2 linked regions of the Homo sapiens genome follow. The protein of the gene in region 1 purifies or fractionates together with the protein of each later gene. This does not show direct contact. Each region holds a gene or a part of one and is shown on either strand. Other genes may lie near its edges.

Region 1 (6,008 bases):
GAAAACAAGTACAAAAATATACCTAGAAAATCCTGACAGACCCCTGTAATAATCTAGCATTCCCAGCCCCACTCTGACCCCAAGCTATGGATCCAATTTCACCATTACTCACTTTTCCTGATCATTCTACTTCTATAACTCTGTCTCTGTGATTTCCAGTTCTGGAATATTCTCTCCATTGTTAACTATTTTTAAATCATTTATTTAATGATCAGGATGTAAACCAGGGGGATAAAAGGTTACAATAATTCTTAGAGTACATTTTAAGGTAGAAGGAAGAAAGGGAGAATAAAGATGTCACCACTAAACCAAGTAACCGAAAACTACCAAAATGACCATCTAAAAGAACATACCAAACAATACTAAATATACTTTAAAAACAAAAGTTTACAAGAAGTAAATCATAAATGTACATTTTTTGTGTATTTTGTTTTGTTTTGATTTTTTTTTTCTTGTATTTTTTGGTTGAGATGGGGTTTCACCACATTGGCCAGGCTGGTCTCGAACTCCTGACCTCAAGTGATCAGCCAACCTCGGCGTCCCGAAGTGCTGGGATTACAGGCGTGAGCCACTGCACCCGCCCCATAAATGTAAATTTTATATGTATACACACATATACTTTTTTTTTTTTTTTTGCTCTGTTGCCCAGGCTGGAGTGCAGTAGTGCGATCTCAGCTCACTGCAACGCCCCCCTCCCAGGTTCAAGCGATTCCCCTGCCTCAGCCTCCCAAGTAGCTGGGATTACAGGCACCTGCCACCACGCCTGACTAATTTTTGTATTTTTAGTAGAGACGGGGTTTCACCATGTTGACCAGGCTGGTCTCGAACTCCTGACCTCAAGTGATCCACCCACCTCAGCCTCTCAAAGTGCTGGGATTACAGGCGTGAGCCACTGCACCCGGCCCACAAATGTAAATTTTATATATATATACGCATATATACATATTTATTTTCTTTTTTTTTGAGACGGAGTCTCTTGCTTTGTTGCCCAGGCTGCAGTACAGTGGCCCGATCTCAGCTCACTGCAAGCTCTGCCTCCCAGGTCCACGCCATTCTCCTGCCTCAGCCTCCCGAGTAGCTGGGACTACAGGTGCCCACCACCACGCCTGGCTAATTTTTTGTATTTTTAGTAGAGCCGGGGTTTCACCGTGTTAGCTGGGATGGTATTGATCTCCTGAACTCGTGATCTGCCCGCCTCGGCCTCCCAAAGTGTTGGCATTACAGGTGTGAGCCACTGCGCCCAGGCAGCATATGTACATATTTCTATATAGGTATACACATGCAGTGCTAACATTAGTCTTTTAAAAAGGGAGAAATACACATTTATATATTTATATATAATATATATAGAGAGAGTAAATTACTGAAAGTGATGCCTCTAGGTAGTGGGGTATGAAGAGTCTAAGAGGAAGGCCAGGCACAGTGGCTCGCGTCTGTAATTCCAACACTTTGGGAGGCTGAGGCGGGTGGATCGCTTGACGTCAGGAGTTTGAGACCAGCCTGGCCAACATGTTGAAACCCCGTCTCTACCAAAAAATACAAGTTAGCTGGGCGTGGTGGTGCACACCTGTAATCTCAGCTACTTGGGAGGCTGAGGTAGGAGAATCACTTGAACCCGGGAGGCAGAGGTTGCAGTGAGCCAAGATTGCACCACTGCACTCCAGCCAGGGTGACACAGAGAGACCCTGTCCAAAAAAAAAAAGAGTCTAAGAGAAAAAGAAGGTAGATAAATAAACCAAATGATCAAATCTAACTTCAGCAAAACTGCAACGAACTGACATCAGGCACTCTGGAAGGGCCACACTGACAGAGACACAACGTTGCCTCTCACATATTCCTGGTAAAAACATTTAAGCTGAAGCTAATCATGAGGCGAAAATCAGACAAATCCAAATTGAGCGATATTCTGCAAAACACTGGGCTGGATTCTTTAAAAATGTCATTTGGCCTACAGAGGACAGCCAAATAAAAATGAAAATATCATTGTCATGAAAGACACAAAAGGCAGGGACACCATATTAAAAGAGACCAAAGAGATATGACAACAGAATACAATTGGTGATTCTTGATTGGATAGAAAAAATATAAACAACTATAACACATGTTATTGGGATAAATGGAAAAACTGAAATATGGACTGTGTATCAGAGTATTGTATCATTGTTAAATTTTCTAAATGTGTTATTTGTACTGTGATGATGTAGGAGAATGTCCTTGTTCTTGGCAGATAACTGCTGAAAGAAGTGGTGAATTATTAGTAGTCTACAACTAACTCTTGAAAGGTCCAGTGAAAATAAATACATAAATGGGAGAGAGAAAACACCAGAGCGAAAGCGAGCACACAAAAATAAGGCAAAATGGTGCAGCTAAGTGAAGGACGGGTTTATAAATATTCAATGTACTGCTCTTGCAACTTTCCTGTACATCTGAAAATTTTCAAAACAAACAGATGGGAAGAAAAAAATGAATATAGTACAAAATATGTGCAGTATCATAGTCTGCACTGTAAGTAAAAGTGTAAAGTCTTTTGTAGACCTTGGATTCTAACTACAGCTTTGTAGTGCATTAATGAAAAAGGTAAACATTAAACAATATCCAACAAAATAAAATAAAAATAAAAATGCCTTGTAAAGGGTGAATGAGATTAATTATTTTAAATGTTATGCAATGTACACCATTGACAATTAGGATACAATGCAAATTTAACATTATAACTACTCCTAACATAATATTTTCACAGCAAAGGTCTGAATTTTTACTGCACCTCTGGTTCACAACCATAAACAATTATATCTGTACAGTAATAATAATTTTAAAAACATCATTCTAGCTGGTTGCACTTGGATTGTCAATAATCCACAAATCCCACTAAAGAAAATTTTTTACCCGTTACATTTTCTAGAATGACTACCTCATTTCCCAACTTTGAAGTAACAGCTTTTAACTAAAAGGTTGCTTCAAAACTACTATTAAAAAGTGGTTCCTATAAAACACTACTGCTTGACCCAAAAAATAAAATAAAGCACACAGCCCAGCTTTCCTCTCAATTGGTCACTAAACCAGTATCATGAAAAGGCAGGGAGCCACGCTGTAAGCGCTCCCCCGTTTTCTGCCGAATGTTCAGGAAAAGAGTGTCAGGTTCAAGCCAGCATTTAAAATAAAATAAAATGAATCACAGTCAACTCCCTAAACTCCAATGTAAGAACCACGCACCTGCACCAAAATATGCCTGAGCGGGAACTCGAGTCGGCTCTCCGAGACCCCAAAGTTCCCAACCTAGCCCCAACCCCTCAAGCTTCCCCCAGGGGCACCGGCTTCTCACAGCCGAGGGGGATTCGGGGCCCACATGCGGAGCCTCCCGGGCCTGTCGAGCCACGGCAGAAGGCGACGACGCCCGGCCCCACAGGCCCCTCAAGCTCCTCAAGCTCCCCCAGTCCCTCCCTCCCCCGCCACTCGCTCTCCAGTCCCTGCCCCTTTCCCCGGCCCCACTCACTCTTCATCTTGGATGCGGAAGCCGGTGACAACCCCTTGCCGACACTGGACGGAAAAGAAAGAAGCAGGAAGGTTGTCCCCCTGCTTTCCACTTCCCTGAGGCGGGGTCCCGCACTAGGATCTCCGTGGTGGTCCCTCGAAGGAGAGCGTTAGAGATCCCGCCGCCATGTTGTGTCCCTGTCACCCTAGCAACCGTCAGGCCCTGAACGCCATGAGCTGTCGCCTGCGCATGCGCAAGATGCCCCGCCCATGTACGCGTGCGCAGTGCAGCCCGTCCCCTCAGCCCGGTTGCTAAGCAGCCTTTCCTCCGCTTCCATGTAAATACTGTGCAAATCCCCGCCTTTGACACAGGCGACCTTCGCTCGGCTCGCTCTCCCTGCTGGCCTGGGAACTTAGCGATTTGGAACCCACTACGTGGACGATAGCCTTGAGCTTTAATTGGGCTTGGGAGCTTCTACAGGAATTTTTTTTTTTTTTTGAGACAGAGTGTCGCTCTGTTACCCAGGTTGGGGTGCAATGGCGTGATCTCGGCTCACTGCAACCTCCGCCTCCCGGCTTCAAGCGATTCTCCTGCCTCAGCCTCCCAAGTAGCTGGGATTACAGGCACCCACCACTACACCCGGCTAATGTTTTTGTATTTTTAGTAGAGACGGGGTTTCACCATGTTAGGCTGGTCTCGAACTCCTGACCTCAGGTGATCCGCCTGCCTCGGCCTCCCGAAGTGCTGGGATTACAGGCGTGAGCCACCACGCCCGGCCCAGTTTTTCTTTTTAATTCAACAAGCATTTGTTTTTGCCCCAGGAACTGTCGCAGGTATTGGGGATTAAAGGACAGTGTAGACGAGGTGACTGAGTTCTTGAAACTAACATTCTAGTGTAAAGATGAATGAATGTACACCGGAATGAACTATGTGCAGACACGGTGCCTAAGCAACACAGTGGCCTAGTTCTCTGGACCCTGACAAAACAATAAAATAACAAGCATACTATGTATGGGTATAGTATTTTATGAAGCTCATTAGATTAGCCTCATAATTATTCCATGAGATCAAAACCCTGTTTTTTCCTCCATTTTTTTTCTTTTACTAAAATACATCGTTTATTTTTAAAACAGATAAGTAGCCTTGCCAAAACGAAGCCTCAGAAAATTGGTTTAAGACTGAATTGGCCAGGTGTGGTGGCTCACACCTGTAATCCCAGCACTTTGGAAGGCCGAGGCAAGAGGATCGCTTGAGGCCAGAAATTCAAGACCAGCCTGGGCAACATAGAGAAACCCCACTTCCCTCTTAAAAAAAAAAAAAAAAAAACTCCGGGCGTGGTGGCTCACGCCTGTAATCCCAGCACTTTGGGAGGCCAAGGCGGGCAGATCACGAGGTCAGGAAATCGAGACCATCCTGGCTAACACGGTGAAACCCCATCTCTACTAAAAATACAAAAAAAATTAGCCGGGCGTAGTGGCGGGCGCTATAGTTCCAGCTACTCCGGGGGCTGAGGCAGGAGAATGGCGTGAACCCTGGAGGCGGAGCTTGCAGTGAGCCGAGATTGCACCACCTGCACTGCAGCCTGGGCGACAGAGCAAGAGACTCAAAAAAAAAAAAAAAAAAAAAAAAAAGCCGGGCACGGTGGCACATGCCTGTAAACCCAGCTATTCAGGAGAATAAGGCGGAGGTATCTTGAGACCAGGAGTTCTAGGCTCAGTGAGCTATGATAGCACCACTGCACTCTAGCCTGGGTGACAAAGCAAGACCTTGTCTCGAAAGAAAGAGAAAGCGGCCGGTCGCGGTGGCTCACACCTGCAATCCCAGCACGTTGGGCGGCCGAGGCAGGCAGATCACTTGAGTCCAGGAGTTCGAGACCAGCCTGGCCAACATGGGGGAAACCCCGTCTCTACTAAAAAAATACAAAACGGCTGGGCACAGTGGCTGATGCCTGTAATCCCAGCACTTTGGGAGGCCAAGGCGGGTGGATCCCCAGGTCAGGAGTTCAAGACTAGCCTGGCCAAGATGGTGAAACCCCATCTCTACTGAAAATAGAAAAATGAGCCGGGTGTGGTGGCAGGCACCTGTAATCCCAGCTACTCGGGAGGCTGAGGCAGAGAATTGCTTGAACCCGGGAGGCGGAGGTTGCAGTGAGCCGAGATTGCGCCACTGCACTCCAGCCTGGGCGACAGAGTGAGACTCCGTCTAAAAAAGCAAATACATAAATAAAATACAAAACAAGCCAGGCGTGGTGGCTCACACCTATAATCCCAGCACTTTGGGAGGCCGAGGAGGATGGACCAACTGAGGTCAGGAATTCGAGACCAGCTGGCCAACCAACATGGTGAAACCCTGTCACTACTAAAAATACAAAAATTAGCCAGGTGTGGTGATGCGCTCCTGTAATCCCAGCTACTCAGGAGGCTGAGGCGGGAGAATCACTTGAACCCAGGAGGTGGAGGCTACAGTGAGTCGAGATCCTGCCACTACACTCCAGTCTGGGCGACAGAGCAAGACTCCATCTCAAAAAATAATAAAT
Region 2 (3,232 bases), on another chromosome or scaffold:
AAGAAAAGGAGTTAACCTAACTAAAAAGAGGTCAGGACTTTGTCCTCAGTATCTGAGAGGTAATCTGTAGAATCTTGAAGGGGCATGCCTGAGGAGAGTCTCTCTGTTTGCTTGGGGGCAAATCTTGGGTAACTCTTGACAGTGAAATAATATAATTTAGGGTTGTGACTAGCCACAGCTTTGGGGGATGGGAAATGGCAGGTGGCATTCCCCATGTCAGAAAAAATAACGATGTGATTTAATGTAGGTCTTTAGGTCACAGGGAACCAGTGGACCAAAAGACTAAATAACCACACAGGAATCAACCAACCAATTATGGCTATGTAATGGAGCCCCAATAATTACTTGGATCCCAGCACTCAGTTGAGTTTCCCTGATTGGTGGTTCCTTGTGTCTAAGTCACATGCTAATTTTGGGTATGTAACATGCCCGACTCTACTGTGAGAATACAATAGGAGATCCACATTTGGTACTTCACTGGACTCTGTCTTATTTGGTTTTTCCCCCTTGGTTAACTATAATATGCATCTTTTGCTTGTAAAAATCAGTAACTGTGAGAATAAATACATCCAGTGAGTTCTGAGGGTCTTTCTAGGAAATTATTGAATGTGAAGGTAGTTTTGAAAAACTGCCGAATTTGCACTTGGAGTGAAGTGAGAGCAGTTCTCTGTAAAATGTCCCATTAAACTTTTTAGTTTAACCCTTCATGATACTAAACATCAAACACCTTAGAATGTTTATATCTACAAATCGAAAGTATTCCTATACAAGAATTTTGCATGACACATATAAAATACTTAATCTTATTTTTCTGTTTTGATATGGATGATAAGTTGGTTATCTGAAAGAGTACAGAGACAGACAACTGCAGTTCTGAGGGGAATCTGAAAGGCTGTCCTTCCAGAGGTCCACAAAGGAGGATGCTCTTCATCAGACAATCAATGATGTGAAGAATCACTTGGAATGAAAAGAAAGCCTATGATGTAGATAAACAGGCCTTTTTAACTGTTTTTATATTCAAGACTACACATCAGTGAGCTGAAATAAAGTTAAAACCTTCAATAGACATTTATAGAAAGGAGCCAGAATGAAAATTATCACAGTGTGGAGACAAGCAGGAAAGGTGTCGTTACATGAAATGTCAGCTAAAGTCACTCACATACACCTACATGCATGAAAACTGTCCAGGTTATACTGAAAGAGGTGTTTCTTATTATGGTTCATGCTCACAAAATGTTCAAAACTTTGTCAGGATATTACCAAGTCCTGAATTAGGTAAATTTTTCTGATGGAGAGTTAAGTTCCAAAGGTTGAAACTTGGAAAATATTAATAGGTAAGTGGGTACCCATCAGTATACCTAGCCAAACTCCACCCTTAAGCCTAGAACCTCAGCCCTAAGTGAAAACAGATGACCCCATTTTTCTGCCCCAATGTTGCTTTTTTTGGCCTGCCTGCCACTATCCTGTGACCATAAAAGATTTCAGCTGGCAGAGCAACACAAGCAGCTGAGTGGCAAGGATACAAGTCGCTGAGCGGTGAGCAGAGAAGCAACTGAGTGTCGGAAAGTATGGATAGATGTGGCTAACTTCAGAAGGTGCTGCTTTGGAGAGGGGCCCAGCCACAAATGGCCTGGCTTCAGGAACATGTTGATCCCCTTCCCAGCCCCTTTCCAGCCTCCTTTTCTGCTGAGAACCACTCACCACTCAATAAAGTCTTCTGCGTTCATCACCTTTCACACAGTTCATGTGACCTGGTTCTTCCTGGATGCTGGACAAGAACCCAGGTGCCAAGAGGGCAGGGGCTGCTACCCTGATGCTCCACTGAGCTGATTGGCACTTGGCCATCCCCAGATGGCAGAGCTGAAACAGCATGGGTTGTAACATGCTTGGACACTGCTGTGGGGCGTGCATAACAGAGCCTGCTCTCGCCAGAGAGGAGCGACCAGCCAATTCCAGCATTCATTTGCTCCGGTTCCTGCACTTGCTCGCTTGCACACTCCCTCCTGCAAGGAATCGACAGCGGTGGGCTGAGTGAAACAAACCCTGAAGTTCCTGCCCGCAAAGATGGTCAAGGGAACAATCCTGTCTAATAGGTACATGGATATATTTAATACACTGTGACTTATAAATAAGAGGTCTTTAAGGAGATGGGAAGGGGTCTCAGGATGTTTCTATTTTGAGTAAGTAATTCCCCAATTCCTTCCAGGTCATAAAGCTTACTAGTTCAAAATATAGCACTAAATCTATAAAAATAAACAAAAAGCCTGTCCTTTAACTTTTTGACAATTAAATTTGCATAATGTAAAGAAAAGGGAAATACGCACATTTTTGAAGAAAGATGACCAGAAACAGAGTCAACATTCAGCTACATAACTTGTGTCCTCTCATCCTCATTCTTCCCCCTCTAAGGGAAGGAAGGAGGAACTGGAGGCAGTGAAGTGTGGGCCGACTTTGGAAAAGGCAAATGGGCTGCAGATGGGTAAATCTCTCAAAGGAAAGCTAGCTGCAAATCCTCATTCAAAAAGACTTTCTTCTCAGATATAAATATGCTCCCTATGGAAAGCTCCAGGGTAGGTCCCAGGGAAGGCATATTACTCAGTGTGGTCATGAAAAAAAAAATGCTATGCTTAGAAGTTTCCACAGGACATGGGTCAACTGCACACACATAAAACCAATCATGTCAAGGAAACCTAAGAAAGTTGAAAATGGATAAGCAGCCATCCACAGAGAAAAAAAAAATCTGTTCTGCAATATATAATCAGCCCTCCATATCCATGGGTTTGGCATCCATGGATTCAACCAACAGGACATAAAAAATATTTAGGGAAAAAAATTCCAGTTCCAAAGAGCAAAACTGGAATTTCTCACACACTGAGTCCTATGTTGAATCCTTGTGAATGAAGTGACAGGTAGGCATTGCATTTGGTATTATAACTGGTCTAGACATGATTTAAAGTATATGGGAGGATGTACATAGGTTATAGGCAAAGACTTCACATATATCAGGAACTTGAACATCTCTGGCTTTCGGTATCCATGTGGGGTCCTGAAATCAAACCCCTATGGCTTCCAAGGGACTAATATATTTCATACACTCTGGTTCATGTATTACTTATTAGCTAGCTCCATGATTCCTACAGACAGTGAAGTCCCCCCATCCATTAATTCATTCATCAGGATACCAAATATTTACAGATCCCTCCATGTACTAGGACTATTCTAGGCACTGAAG

The links. Proteins that work in one complex are often made in the same cells at the same time.
Region 2: the proteins of MOK (region 1) and ZNF223 purify together in Homo sapiens (affinity purification with mass spectrometry, with the first as the bait; one large-scale study listed by BioGRID). This does not show direct contact.

What each region holds. Positions count from the first base shown.
Region 1 is NC_000014.9:102,301,469-102,307,476, forward strand, and holds the start of MOK (MAPK/MAK/MRK overlapping kinase), read right to left. Parts: upstream 3,697-6,008; 5' UTR 3,501-3,696; coding exon 3,494-3,500; intron 1-3,493. UniProt on the Homo sapiens protein: Able to phosphorylate several exogenous substrates and to undergo autophosphorylation. Negatively regulates cilium length in a cAMP and mTORC1 signaling-dependent manner.
Region 2 is NC_000019.10:44,062,036-44,065,267, reverse strand, and holds part of ZNF223 (zinc finger protein 223), read right to left. Parts: intron 1,951-3,232; exon of another isoform or gene 1,702-1,950; intron 1-1,701. UniProt on the Homo sapiens protein: May be involved in transcriptional regulation.